Regions from separate parts of the Homo sapiens genome. Here region 2 is linked to region 1. A link means that fine-mapping ties the variant in region 1 to the expression of a gene that starts in the linked region. Tissue or cell type: lung. Region 1 holds a variant in brackets; the other region holds the start of a gene. All regions are shown on one strand. Distances are from middle to middle.

What was found. PIP is the estimated chance that this variant, and not a neighbour inherited with it, causes the effect.
Region 2: NAPRT starts here. The variant in region 1 is fine-mapped to the expression of NAPRT in lung (TOPMed, PIP 0.97).

Annotation. Positions count from the first base shown.
Region 1 is chr8:143,671,049-143,679,294 of GRCh38, forward strand. No RefSeq gene overlaps it. Among named protein-coding and RNA genes, the nearest start is that of ZNF707, 9.3 kb to the right of the region's middle. The variant C/T (reference allele first, on the strand shown) is at 4,015.
Region 2 is chr8:143,575,140-143,583,139 of GRCh38, forward strand. NAPRT (nicotinate phosphoribosyltransferase) reads right to left here and starts at 3,191. Exons shown (of 13, transcript NM_145201.6): 1 at 2,954-3,191; 2 at 2,677-2,804; 3 at 2,518-2,600; 4 at 2,130-2,260; 5 at 1,923-2,038; 6 at 1,507-1,703; 7 at 1,293-1,433; 8 at 939-1,023; 9 at 483-563; 10 at 284-386; 11 at 52-206. The coding sequence starts at 3,179. It overlaps EEF1D (eukaryotic translation elongation factor 1 delta), which reads right to left. Exons shown (of 10, transcript NM_001130053.5): 6 at 6,090-6,189; 7 at 5,915-6,015; 8 at 5,367-5,588; 9 at 4,873-5,067; 10 at 4,589-4,691. The coding sequence ends at 4,653. RefSeq lists enhancers at 2,599-3,506, 3,507-4,415.

The DNA of each region.
Region 1 (8,246 bases):
AAAAGAAATCAAATATGAAGACTAAGAGTTTTAGGATTTGGTGTTAAGAGGTTTTGTTTTGCGTTGTTTTGAATTTTTGTGGGCACATAGTAGGCGTACGTATTTATGGGGTACATGTTTTTGTTTCTTTTTTTTTTTTTTTTGAGACAGAGTCTCACTCTGTCACCCAGGCCGGAGTGCAGTGGCGTGATTTCAGTCCACTGCAAGCTCCGCCTCTCAGGTTCAAGTGATTCTCCTGCCTCAGCCCCCGAGTAGCTGGGACTACAGACGAGCACCGCCACACTTGGCTAATTTTTGCATTTTTAGTACAGACGGGGTTTCATCATGTTGGCCAGGCTGGTCTCGAACTCCGGGCCTCAAGTGATCCACCTGCCTCAGCCTCCCATGGGGTATACGTTTTGATACAGGCGTGCAAAGTGTAATAGTCACATCATGGATAGTGGGGTATCCATCCCCTCAAGCATTTATCCTTTGCGTTACAAACAATCCGATTATACTCTGTTACTTTAAAATGTACAATTAAATTATTATTGAATATAGTCACCCTGTTGTGCTATCAAATACTAGGTCTTATTCTTTCTAATTTTTTTGTACCCATTAGTTAAGGGTTTTTTTTTTTTTGAGACAGAGTTTCACTCTTGTCACTCAGGCTGGAGTGCAGTGGTGAGATCTCGGCTCACTGCAACCTCTGCCTCCTGGGTTGAAGCGATTCTCCTGCCTCAGCCTCCTGAGTAGCTGTGATTACAGGTGCACGCCACCATGCCCGACGAATTTTTGTATTTTTAGTAGAGACAGGATTTCACCATGTTGGCCAGGGTGGTCTTGAACTCCTGACCTCAGGTGATCCACCCACCTCGGCCTCCTGAACTGCTGGGATTATGAGACTTACGGTTTACCAAAGGGGTGCGATGGGCCTTCTGTGTGGTGTCCGCATCCTCTCCTAGCTGGTTTCGGGAGAGTGCCGGCCCTCTGGGGCCTCTCTCCCTGGCTCGCCCTTTAGAAGGGGTTCACATAGTTAGAACCTTAGCAGTAAAGGTAACCTGTGCCTTGCGCAGGGCGGGGGACCTGGTGGGGACCCCAGAGGCAATGGTGTCAGCCCCGGTTATGGACTGGCGTCACTTGCGGCAGCCAGGTCCCACATGCACCCACCCTAATTTAATTAGACCAGGCAGCTAGGCAGGAACACGTTTATTTATTTTTAATTAAGCTTTTTGTGATAATTTTAGATTTGCATGCAGCTGTAAGGTGTTTTACAGAGAGATGCTGGGCACCCTTTACCTCCCTCAGTGGTAGCACCTGGAACCCTGCAGTGCACACAGCTGGGGTATTGATGTTCACAGAGTCAGGATATGGTCCTCACCCTTCCACAGCCACACCCACTCCCTCCCTCCAACCCTCCTTCAGGGCTGGCAACCATTCATCTGTTCTGTCCATTTCTGTAATTCTTTTTTCTTTTCTTGTCCTTTCCTTTTCTTTTCTTTTTTTCTCCTTCCTTCCTCCCTTCCTTCCTTCCTTCCCTCCCCTCTCTCTTTCTCTCTTTCTTTCTTTTTCTTTTCTTTCTTTTTTTTTGACAGTCTTGTTCTGTTGCCCAGGCTGGAGTGCAGTGGCGCGATCTTAGCTCACTGCAACCTCCACCTTTCAGGTTCAAGAGATTTTCCCAAGCCTCCCAAGTAGCTGGGATTACAGGCATGCACCATGCCTGGCTAATTTTTGTATTCTTAGTAGAGACGAGGTTTCACCATGTTGGCCAGGCTGGTCTGGAACTCCTGACCTCAGGTGATCCGCCTACCTCGCTTAGCCTCCCAAAGTGCTGGGATTACAGGCATGAGCCACAGTGCCTGGCCCATTTCTGTAATTCCATCTTTTCAAGAATGTCCTGTGAATGGAATCATATACAGTATATATGGAATTGTTCTATTGAGGCCCAGTGTCACCAGTACCCATGGATATACAATCTCCTGGTGGGGCCAGGGTGCACCATGGCTCATGCCTGTAATCCCAGCACTTGGGGAGGCCAAGGTTGGAGGATTGCTTGAGGTCAGGAATTTCAGATCAGCCTGGGCACCATATTGAGACCTGTCTCTACAAAAAATTTTGAAAAGTTAGCCAGGTGTGGTGATGCACTCCTGCAGGCCCAGCTACGTGGTGGGCTCAGGCGGGAGGATGGCTTCAGCCCACGAGGTAGAGGTTACAGTGGCTGTTGCTGGGAAAGTGTGATACATGCAAGAGAATGAAGTTGGACCCTCGTCAGTACCACATACAAAAATTAACTAGAAATGGATCATGCTGGGCACCGTGGCTTGCACCGCTTGTACCTGTAATCCCAGCACTTTGGGAGGCTGAGGAGAGTGGATCACCTGAGGTCGGGAGTTCGAGACCAGCCTGGCCAACATGGTGAAACCCTGTCTCTACTAAAAATACAAAAAAAAATTAGCCAGGTGTGGTGGTGCACACCTGAAATCCCAGCTACTTGGGAGACCGAGGTGGGAGAATCCCTTAAACCCGGGAGGCAGAGGTTGCAGTGAGCCGAGATCACGCCACTGCACTCCAGCCTGGGCAACAGAGCAAGACTGTCTCAAAAAAATAAGTAAATAAAGTAAAATAAAAAGTAAAAATGGATCAAAGATCTGGATGCAAGACCTGAAACAGTAAACTCTTGTTAGAAACTGGGAGCAGAAGCTTTTGACACACACTGGGTTTGGCAATGATTCCTTGGACACCAAAGGTACAGGCAACAACAACAAACAGCCAAATGGCTTCGTGAAAATTAAAGCCTTTTGTTCATCAAAGGACACTCCTAAAAGAGTGAAAAGCTGCCCCTTCCCCACAGAACGGGAGAATATCTGCAAATCACGTGTCCGATGAGGGACTCATATCCAAAATATCGAAGGAACTCCTTGTGGAGGCCAAAGCCGCTCCAGCCTGGATGGTGACTATTGTGTGGGCTTTCGACTAACCCGTCCAGGGAAGGCCTCCGACGTTTCCAGGTGATCTGTTGTTCCTTGTGTAAGGGCAGGCACTTGCTATAAACCCTGCCGCAGGGTCAGACGGCCCTGATGCCGCCCATTGTCCTGCACTTCCCTCCCAACCCTCCCCGTGGTACACAAGCCCTGGGCGGGGGCAATGGTGGGATCCAGTATCTCCTCTTGCCGCTGCCAAGACAGACATGGCTTCTTTTTCTAAGTCCCTGTTAAGTGTTTCTTTCTAAGAAACTGGGTTTGTTAGCCTTTTTCTTTGACCTCTCAGCTTCCTCGGACTTTGGAGACAGGTTTACATAGACCTACTTACCATGGAACACTCCAGAAAACGACTCCCCAAAAACAACCTGATTCAAAAATAGGCAAAGGACTAATTAGACCTCTCTCCCAAGAATGGCCCAATAGGCTGGGCGTGGTAGCTCACACCTCTAATCCTAGCACTTTGGGAGGCCAAGGTGGGCGGATCACCTGAGGTTGGGAGTTCGAGACCAGCCTGACCAACATGGATAAACCCTTGTCTCTACTAAAAATACGAAATTAGCGGGGCGTGGTGGTGGGTGCCTGTAATCCCAGCTACTCGGGAGGCTGAGGCAGGAGAATTGCTTGAACCCAGGAGGTGGAAGTTGTAGTGAGCTGAGATCACGCCACTGTACTCCAGCCTGGGCGACAAAGTGAGACTCCGTCTCAAAAAAAAAAAAAAAAAAGTAAAGAAAAGAATGGCCCAATAAGCACATGAGAGGATGTTCACACCACTCATTCTTAGAGAACTGCAAATCAAAGCCACAATGAGATACCACCTCACACCCATTAGGATGGCAAACAATTAAAATAACAAAACAAACACAAAACAGAAACAACTTAAAACAGAAAAATAACAGGTATTGGCAAGGCTGTGGAGAAGCTAGAACCCTGTGTGCTGCTGTTTGGAATGTAAAATAGTACATAGTACACCTCCTAAGGAGAGCAGCATGGCGGGTCCTCGGCGTGTGGTGCCTGGAGTGACGTCGGGTCCTCGGCGTGTGGTGCCTGGAGTGAC[C/T]GGCGGGTCCTCGGCGTGTGGTGCCTGGAGTGACCTTGTGACCTGGCCATTCCACTTCTGGGCATATTCCCAGAGCTGTGAAAGCAGGCACTCACGCAGACGTTTGCACCCCTACGTTCACAGCAGCACCATTCCCAGCGGCTCAAGAGTCCGTCAATGGACAAATGGATACACCGAATGTGGTATGGACACACAGCAGAATATTAGCCTTAAAGAAGAAGTCAATTCTGACACACGCTTCAAGAGGGATGAACCTTGAGGACATTGTGCTGAGTGAGATAATCAGTCACAAGAGGACCAATACTGTGTGTGATTCCATTTCTACGAGGTATCCACAGTAGCCAGATTCATAGAAACAAAGTAGAACGGTGGTTTCTAGGGCTGCAGAAGAGGGGAATGGAGAATACTAGAGGATCATAGAAGTTAAAGACTTAAAACAAACTTTAACAATTAGGACAGGATACCAAGGTGCAAATGCCTGGTTAAAATGGATCAAATATTCCATCTACACATTAAACAAAAGCAACTGTTACGCTTGTGCACATGGCAGGCCAGAGGCCCAGATTGTCCCCCTCCACTAAGGTGGTCGCCAGTCGACCAGGCGTGGCTGCATAGTAGCTCTTTTCCAGGATTCTACAGCCTGCAGTAACAAGACGTGCCAAGCTCTCTCTGCTATATCCCGAAATCCAGCACCCTGTGGGTCAGCCCGCAAGGGCCATCCAGCTTCTGTCTCCCAACACTAAGTTCACTTCGTGTCTCTCACGACAGGGAGGAAACAGCATTCCTTGGAGACCTGAAGGGATGCGATGAGCTTAAGAATTTTCGAGAGCTTATCAATCAGTCAGCCCTTGTTCATCCCTGTGCGGATGTGTGGTGGTATTGTGGTGGACCTTTACTGGGCACTCTGCTGAATAACTGGAATGGCACTTGTGCTTTAGTCCGTTTGGCTATCCCTTTCACCCTGGCATTTCATCAACCAGAGGGAGAAAAAATAAGACGTCATAAAGCGAGAGAAGCCCCTTATGGGTCTTTCAACTCTCACGTCTATTTGGATGCAGTTGGGGCCCCTCAAGGAACACCAGATCAATTAAAGCTTGAAATCAAATAGCTATAGGATTTACGTCAATATTTTAGTAGGTGACAGTTAATAAAAGTGTAGATTAGATAAACTACATCTATTACAACCAACAGCAACAAGCTTTTCATGAGTTAAAAGAAAAACTCCTGTTGGCCCCAGCCCTGAGTCTACCTGACGTGACAAAACCTTTTACACTCTATGTGTCAGAAAGAGAAAAAATGGCATTTGGAGTTTTAACCTAGACTGTGGGGCCCTGGCTAAGGGCAGTGGCCTATCTCTCTAAACAACTATAGGGGGTTTCCAAAGCCTGGCCCCCGTGTCTAAGGGCCCCGGCAGCAACGGCCCTGTTAGCACAAGAAGCAGATAAACTAACTCTTGGACAAAACCTGAATATAAAGGCCCCCCATGCTGTGGTAACTTTGATGAATCCCAAAGGACATCATTGGCTAACAAATGCTAGATTAACCAAGTACCAAAGCTTGCTGTGTGAAAATCCCCACATAACCACTGCAGTTTGCAACACCCTAAACCCCAGCACCTTGCTCCCGGTATCGGGGAGCCCAGTTGAACATAACTGTGTAGAGGTGTTGGACTCAGTTTATTCTAGCAGGCGCAACCTCCGAGACCATCCTTGAACATCAGTAGACTGTGAGCAGTACGTGGATAGCAGCAGCTTCGCCAACCCCTGCAAAGTGACTCTGAGGAAGACGACAAGCCCTGCTCCAGTCACGCCCAGAAGCTGACTGGTCCATGCACGGCCGAAGCATGAGGAAACTCATCGCAGGACTCGTTTTCCTTAAAATTTGGACTTGTACAGTAAGGACTTCAACTCACCCTCCTCAGACTGAGGACTGTTCCTAGTGTATACATCAAGTCACTGAGGGAGGACAAAATGTTGCTACAGTCCCATTATTTTACGGTTATTATAAGTGTACTGGAACTCTAAAAAGAACTTGTTTGTATAATGTTATTCTATACAAGGTATGTGCCCAGGAAATGACCAACCTGATGTGTGTTATGACCCATCTGAGCCTCCCATGACCACAGTTTTTCAAATAAGATTAAGAATTAAAGACTGGTGGGGGCTCATAAACAATATGAGTAAAGTGTTAGCCAAAAAAAACAAACAAAAAGAGGTGCCCAAACAAGTCACCTTGAAGTGTGATGCCTGTGCTGTCATTAATACTAATAAGTTAGGAATAGGATGTGGTTCTCTTCATTAGGAAAGAGGCTGTATGGCAGAAAATAAGTACATTTATCATGAGTTAGGACTGTGTGGAAATGAATGTAGTTACTGGTCTTGTGTCATTTAGGCTACTTGGATAAAAAATGAAAAAAATTCTGTCCACCTTCAGAAAAGGAAAAGTGGCCCTTCCTATACCAGTGGTCAGTGTAACCCCTTAGAACTAGTAATAACCAACCCCCTTAATCCTCGCTGGAAAAAAAGGAAATGTGTAACCCTAGAATTTTTTTTTTTTTTTGAGATGGAGTCTCGGTCTGTCACCCAGGCTGGAGTGCAGTGGAGCGATCTCGGCTCACTGCGAGCTCTGCCTCCCGGGTTCACGCCATTCTCCTGCCTCAGCCTCCTGAGTAGCTGGGACTACAGGTGCCCGCCACCACACCCGGCTAATTTTTTGTATTTTTAGTAGAGATGGGGTTTCACCGTGTTAGCCAGGATGGTCTCGATCTCCTGACCTCGTGATCCGCCCGCCTCTGCCTCCCAAAGTGCTGGGATTACAGGCGTGAGCTACCGTGCCCGGCCATAACCCTAGAAATTCATGGGGCTGGACTGGATCTTCAAGTAAATATTGTGGTTTGAGGAGAAGTTTATAAACGCTCTCCTGAGCCAGTATTTCAAACCTTCTATGATGAACTGAATGTGCCAGCACCAGAAATTCCAGGAAAAATAAGAAATTTGTTTGCAATTAGCTGACCATGTAGCCCAGTCTCTCAATGTCACTTCATGCTATGTGTGTGGAGGAACTATAATAAAAGACCAATGGCCACGGGAAGCCCAAGAATTAGTACCTACAGACCCAGTTCCTGACGAATTCCTGGCTCAGAAAAATCACCCTGATAACTTCCGGGTCCTAAAAGCCTCAATCACTAGACAATACTGTATAGCAAGAGTAAGGGGCCGGGCGCGGTGGCTCACGCCTGTAATCCCAGCACTTTGGGAGGCCGAGGCGGGCGGATCACAAGGTCAGGAGATGGAGACCATCCTGGCTAACACGGTGAAACCCCGTCTCTACTAAAAATATAAAAAATTAGCCAGGCGTGGTGGCGGGCGCCTGTAGTCCCAGCTGCTCGGGAGGCTGAGGCAGGAGAATGGCGTGAACCCGGGAGGCAGAGCTTGTAGTGAGCTGAGATCACGCCACTGCACTCCAGCCTGGGTGACAGAGCAAGACTCCGTCTCAAAAAAAAAAAAAAAAAAAAAAGAGTAAGGAAGGACTTCACCCTTCCTGTAGGACGACTCAGCTGCCTTAGGCAAAAACTGTATAATGGTACTACAAAAACAGCCACCTAGTGGAGTTCAAACCATACTAAGAAAAATCCATTTAGTAAATTCCCAAAGTTGCAAACCGTGTGGACCCATCCGGAGTCCCACCGAGACTGGACAGCCCCCACTGGATTATACTGAATGTGTGGGCATAGGCCTTACACCAAATTACCCGACCAGTGGGCAGGCAGTTGTGTGATTGGCACTATTAAACCATCTTTCTTCCTACTGCCTATAAAGACAGGTGAACTCCTGGGCTTCCCTATGTTTCCCGCGAAAAGAGAAGCATAGCTATAAAAAAATAAGAAAGATAATAAATGGCCCCCTGAGAGAATGATGGAATATTATAGGCCTGCTACTTGGGCACAAGATGGCTTGTGGGGATACCGGACCCCCATCTACATGCTCAACCAAATCATACGGTTACAAGCTGTCTTAGAAATAATCACTAATAGGACCGGCAGAGCCTTGACTATTCTGGCCCGGCAAGAAACTCAGATGAGAAATGCTATCTATCAAAATAAATTGACTCTCGACTACTTGCTAGCAGCTGAAGGAGAAGTCTGTGGGAAATTGAACCTTACCAATTGCTGCCTGCACATACATGATCGGGGCAAGTAGTTGAAGATACAGTTAAAGACATGACGAAACTGG
Region 2 (8,000 bases), 96 kb before region 1:
TCAGGGCTCTACCGGGGCTGGGGGTCAGGATGAGGGCGGTGGGGCAGCCACCTGTCCCTGCTGGAGGCAGAGCCGCAGTAGTGGCTCCACCTGGGCTGGCCTCACGGTGCAGGGCTCCTGGGCCCCTGGAGGCCACACCCTCAGCTCCTGCCCAGCCTGTGGCACTGGCTCTTCTGCTAACTGCAGCATGTCCATGAGTGGAGACCCTGTGTGGACGGGGCAAGAATAAGCGGGGGCCCTGGTGCTTTGAAGGTGGACAGCAGGGGGGATGGGAGGGCCTCACCGTCAGAGCCCAGGAGCCGGAAAGCAGCCTTGCTCCCAGGCAACGTCTGCTTCTCGGGGTCCTCGGTCAGCTTCATTCGTGGCTGGCCCCCCACGGCCACCAGCTGCAGGAAGAGGGCGTTGAGCTGGCTGGTCCTTATCCCCCACCCAGCACCATCCCTCAGACCTGCCCCCACCTGGGCCCCCGACACTGTCCCTACCTTATAGACGCCACCCAGGGAAGGCTGTTGGGGGCAGGTGACCACACTGGTGCCAATGCCAATGACATTCACCTCACTGCCCTGGGTGGGGAAGGGGGTGGCCGTGAGCCCAGCTGCCCTGGGTGGGGAAGGGGGTGGCACTGCCCTGGGTGGGGAAGGAGGTGGCACTGCCCTGGGTGGGGAAGGGGGTGGCAGTGCCCTGGGTGGGGAAGGAGGTGCCAGTGCCCTAGGTGGGGAAGGAGGTGGCACTGCCCTGGGTGAAGGGGGTGGCAGTGCCCTGGGTGGGGAAGGGGGTGGCAGTGCCCTGGGTGGGGGAAGGAGGTGGCAGTGCCCTGGGTGGGGAAGGGGGTGGCAGTGCCCTGGGCGGGGAAGGAGGTGGCAATGAGCCCAGCCAGAACCTGCAGGGGCCCCCAGAGCCCCCCAGCCACCCTCCGCCTACCCACTCATCCACCCCACCTCCTGGGCCAGTCGGGCCAGCGCCTCCTCGTCAATGTTGTTGCTGACTACGATGAGGACTGACTCCAGCCAGGGCACCTGGAACCTGCCGCGTGGGTGGAGAAAGGGTGGGGGCCACCCCTCGGGTCTTCCTGATTCACCCTGGTGTCCCCCTGCTCCCCGCCCCGCCTCAGTCAAGGACACCTGTGCTCACCTTCTGCTTGGGAGCTCCTAGGGAGCCCCACCACTTACTTCCCTGCCACGGCCTGCAGTATCACCGCTGAAACTTCAGCAGAGTACCTCACTGTCCTTCCCTGCCCATTCCCAAACCCCGGGGATCTCCCACCAGGCACACCTCCTCCCCGGGAAACTCACTGGGCTGCAGCAGCTCGGAAGACCTTGCGGATCTCCTGAGCCTGCTGTAGCAGGTCACCACTGTCCAGCCTCACGCCCACTGCCCGGTAGCCCAGCTCTCCCAGGGCCAGGGCGACTGCTAGGAAGTTGGGGAGACCACTCCTGCAGAAATAGATAAGGGAGTCAGAGGCTGCTGAGGTTCTGCTGAGCCCACCCCTAAAGTGCCCGGGCTCACCTCCACACGCTGTAGGTGTCCAGGAGGCCCTGGAAGGCCCGGGGAAAAGCCAAGGCATAGGCCACAAAGGCTGCCCGCTCGCCTGGATGCGGCTCCTGCACCCCCAGCCCCAGGTGGGCACACACCTGCTCCAGCCACACCTGGGCTTTGGCCGCCAGGTCCACCCCAGGGCCCTCACCAGCTGCTGGCGCCAACATCTGTGGAACAGAGTCGGTGAAGAATGGGGGCCAGGAATGCAGGATGAGGCCTGGGAGCAGCCAGGGACACCCTAGTTTGAGAGCAAAGGTAATGCAGCCCGTGCCAGCTTCCTGGGACAGCACTGGGGTGACCTGCCTGGGTGGCACACCTCTCGCCAGGGCAAGGGCTGGCTTGGGGCCTGTCGCCTGGAGACAGCAGGGTTTAGAGGAGGGACTGACCGGGTCAGGGGGCACCTCGCTGCCTGAAAAGGAAGTGACGAAGGAGTGGGCCAGGGTCCCGGCCACCGGCACACCTCGCAGCTGGCCCGCTAGCACGTTGCTGCTGCTGTCGAAGCCTGGGGAGGAAGGCGGTGGGATTGGGGGACCTCGGGCCAAGATGGGGCTCCTCCTTCCCGGCCCTTGCCTTGCCCCGCACCAGACACTCACCGCCCAGGTAGCTGTAGGTGGAGGCTGTCAGGCCCCCATCGGGGCCCTGAGCCCGCCTCAGGCCCATCTCTAGCAGCCGCTTCTCTGGCCCTGCGATCAAGCGAAGCCGCGCTGCGTTGGTGGCCACCAGGCTGTGGGGAGCCAAGAGTCAGGGGGTCCCAGGGTGAGGATCACTAGGCCACCCAAGACGGCGGTTACCTGGGGCCTGGAACTTCCAACCTGGGAGCTCCACCCTCACCCAGCCCCTCCTTACACCCTGAAGAGTGGGGGCGGGAGGCCAGTCCTGGGACCCCTGGGCAGCCAGCCCCGCCGCCACAGTCCAGCACGGAGCCCCGGCGCTGGGGGCCCATCCCATGCCCACGCTCCCTGCCAGTGGCCCGCAGCCCACCTGGCGTAGCTGACCAGGCAGAGCAGCGGTGTCTCCAGCAGCTGCACCACCAGGAGCGGCCCGGACACCTGCAGGAGCGGCACCTGCGGGGAGAGAAGTCAGCTCCGCGCTCGGCCCAGCACCCCGTGGCCGCCGCGCCGCCCGCTTACCCCTACTCACTCCGGGGAAGGCGAGGGAGCCCTCGGGCAGGGCTCGCACCGTCACCTCGGAGCAGTCGAGGGCCCGAAGGTGCTCGAAGAACGCAGGATCCGTGTCTGGGGGCAGCACCGAGGCCAGGAACTGCACGTCTGGAAACGAGGTAACTGCGCTGAGACCAGCGCGGGGACAGACCGGTCGTGGGACATGGGGGGTTCCACGGGGGGACAAGGACTTCCACCGGCCATAGGTGGGGGTTTCTGCCGGGCGTGGGGGGCTCGTCGCGCGGACGGGGGACTACCGGCGTCCCGCAGGCGGAAGGCGCGCAGGAAGCGCACACAGTCGCGCAAGCCGGCGGCCAAGGCGAAGGCGCCGCCGAACGGGCAGCGGCGGAAGAAGAGCTCGAACTCGGCGGCGTCCCGCGCCCGGCCCGCGCGCCAATAGCCCAACGCCATGGTGGCCTGGTAGAGGTCAGTGAGCAGCGGCCGCGCCGCCGCGCGCGCCTCGGGGTCCTGCTCCGCCGCCATCCTGCTCCCGACGTCCGGACTCCGCCCCGCCCCGACCCCGTGACGCGCCCCGGCCTATGGCGCACTCCCTGTGGGGCTTATCGTGCCGTTTGGGAGCGGCACGGGACTCGATGGAGGACGGGTGGGGCTAATAGTATCGGCGCGCCGAGAGGGGCTGAAACAGCTGGACCCGGGATGGGGTGGGGGATGTCACCCAACTCCTCTCGGACCCCCCAACCCCACTCCAGGCCCAACGGCCTCTTTGGAGCGCAGCCCGGTCTTGGTCACCAGAGGTGCCCCCAGTCGCTCGTGTCTCTGCCCTTTGGCCGGGCAATGAGGTGCAGCTCAGGACTTGCCAGGCGGCGGAAAGGGTGGAGGACAGACCAGCCAGACTCCACCCCCACCGACCCAGAAGACAACCGCTGGCCAGCAGCCAGCTCCTGCCCTGGGCCTGGGGAGGGAGGCCAGAGGCTGCCTTAGTTAGAGCTTGAGCAGCCAGGCTAGGACGAGGCAGCCCAGATGGACGCAAATGTCGCTTGGAAAGAGCTTGGCACCCAGGAAAGGGCGGCGTGGGGCAGGGGGGCGCATGCCCACTGTCGGCTGGCACCAAAAGACCTTTTGTGGCTATGAAGGCCCAGTGTCCCTCAGTGGTGGCTTTTATGGGGTCCTGCAGTCCAAGCCCCACAGGAAACTTTCTAAAGGTTTGAGGGCAAAGTCAGGGGCCACTACCCAGGGAGAATCCATTCCCCTGTGGCTTGGGGCCCCGAGGACAGAGTCTGACCAGAAGTAATCAAGTAATTACACCCCATCCTCTTTCACCCCAATGCAAACACGGGTGGTCCAGGGGAGGGAGTGTGGCCACCCATGCTGACCACATACGGCTGTCAGGATGCTGAGGCACAGCTCCACAGAGCCCAGGCAGCCACGTTCTGGCCACCCCAGAACATCATGGGAGGGGCACAGTCCCTGGAGCAAGGGGCAGGGATTCCAGGAATGAATGAGGTGAGGGGAGGGCCGGGACAGCACATGACAAAGGGCATGGCAGCAGGGCCGGGTGCTACTGGGACTTCTTTCCTGGACAATTCCAGGCTTGCACGCTTGCTCCCATGGGGACAATGCCAACAGGAGGCAGAGTGGTGGGGTGGTGGCCTCTCCAGATAGTGACCTAACAGTTTCTGTTTCTGGCTTTTTAAACCCCCTGAACTGGACTTGCTTTTGCAATGGAAAGAAGAGGGAGGGCCAGAGCTTTGGGAGGGAGTGGCCAGGAGATGGAGGGACAGGCGGAGGTCTGCTGGGGGCAAGGTGACATGGCCACAGAGGGTGGCAGCAGCCAGGATGACTGTGTGGGAACAGCAGGGCAGAGATGGGGCTGAGACAGGGAGGGAGACAGGCCAGGTACGAGCAGGAAATGACCAGGACGGAGCCAGAGGGCCGGTCTCAGTCTTTAATCGTGGCAGGGCCTCACGCACGCGCGCACGTACACACACTCAGGCTTCAGATCTTGTTGAAAGCTGCGATATCGACACTCTGCACCTGAGGAGAGGCGGAGGGTGACGGTCAGGGCTGTTCCCCTACAGCCCACTCGGAGCCAGGAGCCTCCTCTGAGGTGGGGTTCACTCTGGGACTCGCTCCCCACTGCCGTGGGGTGGAGTGCAGGGTATGGGCCAGGGTCCCCAGTCTCCTCTCCCCTCCTCTCCCCGGCCGGCTCACTCACGTGCTCCTCAAACTTGGTGATCTCCTCCTCCAGCAAGTCTGTCCCCACCTTGTCGTCCTCCACCACACACTGAATCTGTAGCTTCCGGATACCGTAGCCCACGGGCACCAGCTTGGAAGCCCCCCAGACCAGCCCGTCCAGCTGGATAGAGCGCACACAGGCCTCCAGCTGGGCCATGTCCGTCTCATCATCCCACTGTGGGGAAAGGGGAGGAAAAGCTGGGGTCAGCCACCCTCAGAACACCCAGGAAGTACCTGCATGCACCCTACCCTCAACCACTGTGTGTCCACAATTCTGTTTCCTTAAAGGGCCCACAGAAAACAATCCAAATTCACACCTTCCTGCCTCCAAGTTTGTGTTTATCCCAAGACTTCTAAACTCGGCTTTAAAGTCTCCCCAGAACCCAGAGGGCAGGGGGAGGGTCACAGGCTGAGCCGGCTAGGCGGGCACCAGGGCAGTGCCTGGCCCCCTGAAGCCCCACCCCGCCCACTCACAGGCTTGACATCCAGCAGGATGGAGGACTTGGCCACCAGTGCAGGCTTCTTGGCCTTCTTCTCCGCGTACTGCCGTAGCCGCTCCTCCCGCAGCTGTGCCGCCTCCTTGTCCTCCTCCTCATTGTCACTGCCAAACAGGTCAATGTCATCATCCTCGTCATCCTCTGCTGGTGTGGCTGGCTTCTTGGCTGGGGGCTCCACTTGGCGCATGGGAGATACGTGCTGCCACAGGGGAAGGGACAGGAGGCACGGCTGAGACGCCCCAACCAGGGCCCAGAGCTGCCTGGCCACCTCCTGGCCCTCCTCCCTCCTTTGACTGGAGGAAGGGCAGCCCCTGTGTACCGCAGCTGTGTACATGCAGGGCCCCAGGAAAGACAAAAACTGCCTCCACCTGCCCAGGGCTAACTGTAAACCTTCCTGGGGACCTGAGGACTCCAGTATCCTGGCTGCCAGCTCATCACTGCTGCTGGGGCCAGCCCACAGGGCGACGTGGAAGCCAGCAGGGCCACGTGGTCCCCTGCAGTGTCAGGCGTGGGGAGAGCATTCACCTGGGTCTGTGGGGCCGTGGCCCGGTGGCCAGGCGAGCTCTTCTCCAGCACGTTCAGCCGGGCCTCCAGCTTGGAGATGGCCTGCTGCAGCTCCTGTACCACTGGGGGGGCAAGGGGAGCACGGTTAGATGGCAGGGGCCAGGGACAGCCCCAACCCACTGGCCCGGGGCCTCACCGCCACGCAGACTCTGGTTCTCCACTTCCAGACTGGCAATCCGGACGACGAGCTCACCGTGGTCTCCGCTGGTGCCGCTGGAGGCCCCGGGGCCTGAGCTCTGCAAGGCAGGAGGAGGGGAGGGCTCAGTGCCCAGCCTGCTCCTAGGGTCCCCCTGCCATGCTCAGGACTGCAGGAACTCACGGAAGGAAAACTACAGCTCGGGAGAGCAGGAGGTGCCCCCCGCTGATGCCCAGCTCAAACTTATGACCTCAGAGGTGGCGGCCACCACAGACCACAGTGAAATTCTCAGCCAGGCAAAGTCCAGGACAGGAGGCTCTTGGTGCCCCAGAGACGGAGGCTGTGGGGAGCTGGGCCATGGCTGCTGCTGCCCGGCGGAATCCTGCTGAGCAGCCAGGCTCAGAGGCTGGGTGGGAGGTGCTGAAGGACTCACAGTCCTAGGGACAACCTGGGACACGCCTCAGGGGACCAGGCAGCACTGGAAATGGGAGGCGGGAGCAGCTGAGGGCCCAGTGGGGGAAGAAGGAAGGAGCCCACCTGTGTGGACAGCAGCCACCCAAAGCTTTGTCTCCCTGGGCCTCACGCCTGCCATCTCACTCAGCAAGCCAGTCTCTAGGTGATCCAGGGCCCCAAGCCCACCTCATACTCTGCCATAGCTGAGACTGATACCTCGGGGCCCAGACAGGATCCCAGCCTCCTGGCCCTTAACACTAGCCAGTCCTTAAGCATCTACCTGCACGCATGGGCCATTTAGCCTGCCCACCCTCCAACAGGATGGCTCGAAGGACAGGGTGCACCTGGCTGCATGGAGCTCTCAGCAAACCCCATCTCGGCAGCTCCCCGGGGCTCCCTCTCTGTGGGGAGGGGCCTGGAGTAGCCGGGCAGGCAAAGCCGCTCCTTGCAGCAGGTGCGGACATACTCAGGCCTTTGCCCAACGTGCAAACCCATCCCTGGGGCCCTCCTGCCACCGTCCTTGGGACCATGCTGTGGGGAATGCTTGTTTATGTATCTGGAGGGTGTGGGAGCTAAGCCCCGCAGATCATGGGCAAGGCCGAGCCAAACTGGCCCAGGAGGCCCACCTGGCAGCAAGGCCAGGAGGAAATGGACAGGGAAAGGCCAGGCTGGCAGAGGCGCGTGAATGGTGGTGGGGGTACGGGAGGCACCGGCAGAAACTGACAAACTCGGGGGCAGAAGCCGGAGCACGGGAGGGCCAGGCTTTGGGGCGCCAGGGGGCATGGAGAATCACAGCAGACCTCCCGCGGGAGTGGGGCTGGGTCCTGAGGAGGCCGGAGTCTGTGAGTGGCACCTGAGGCCTCATGCACCCCACACAGCAGGCCCAAGGACAGGGAAAAGGTCCCCTCTGGAAGAGGCACTAAGTCAGCACTGGCCCCGGGCTGCATGATGAGCAGCGGGGGCCGTCTCACCACTGCCTGGCTCTGCGGGCCACTAGGCCAGAGCCCACAGCACTCAGGACACAGGGAGAGTCCCCTCCTTTGATGCTGACTCAGGGGGGACTAGGGATGCCAGGCATCAGAATCCCTGAGCACAGCTTCAACGGGCAGGCTCAGGTCACCCAGTGCAGTCACAGCGGGCCTCAGAGAGCCCCTCAGGGACTTGGGGGATGCCAAAGGCAAACACTTCAGAGCCAGACCCATGCCTGTAACCCTGTGCCAGCACCACGCTACCAGAAACCCTGCAGTTCTGAAACCCCAGTGTCTGCTGAGCACTCCCACCCCAAATCCAAGATGAGACTGGGCCCCTGCCATGGGCTGAATAATGTCCTTCCAAATCCACATGCTGGAGTCTTATCCCCCGGTATCTTAGGATGTGACCTTATTTGGAGACAGGGCCTTTGCAGAGGTAACTGTCACTGAGGGGCAGGGGGCTAATCCAATCTGACTGGTGTCCAAT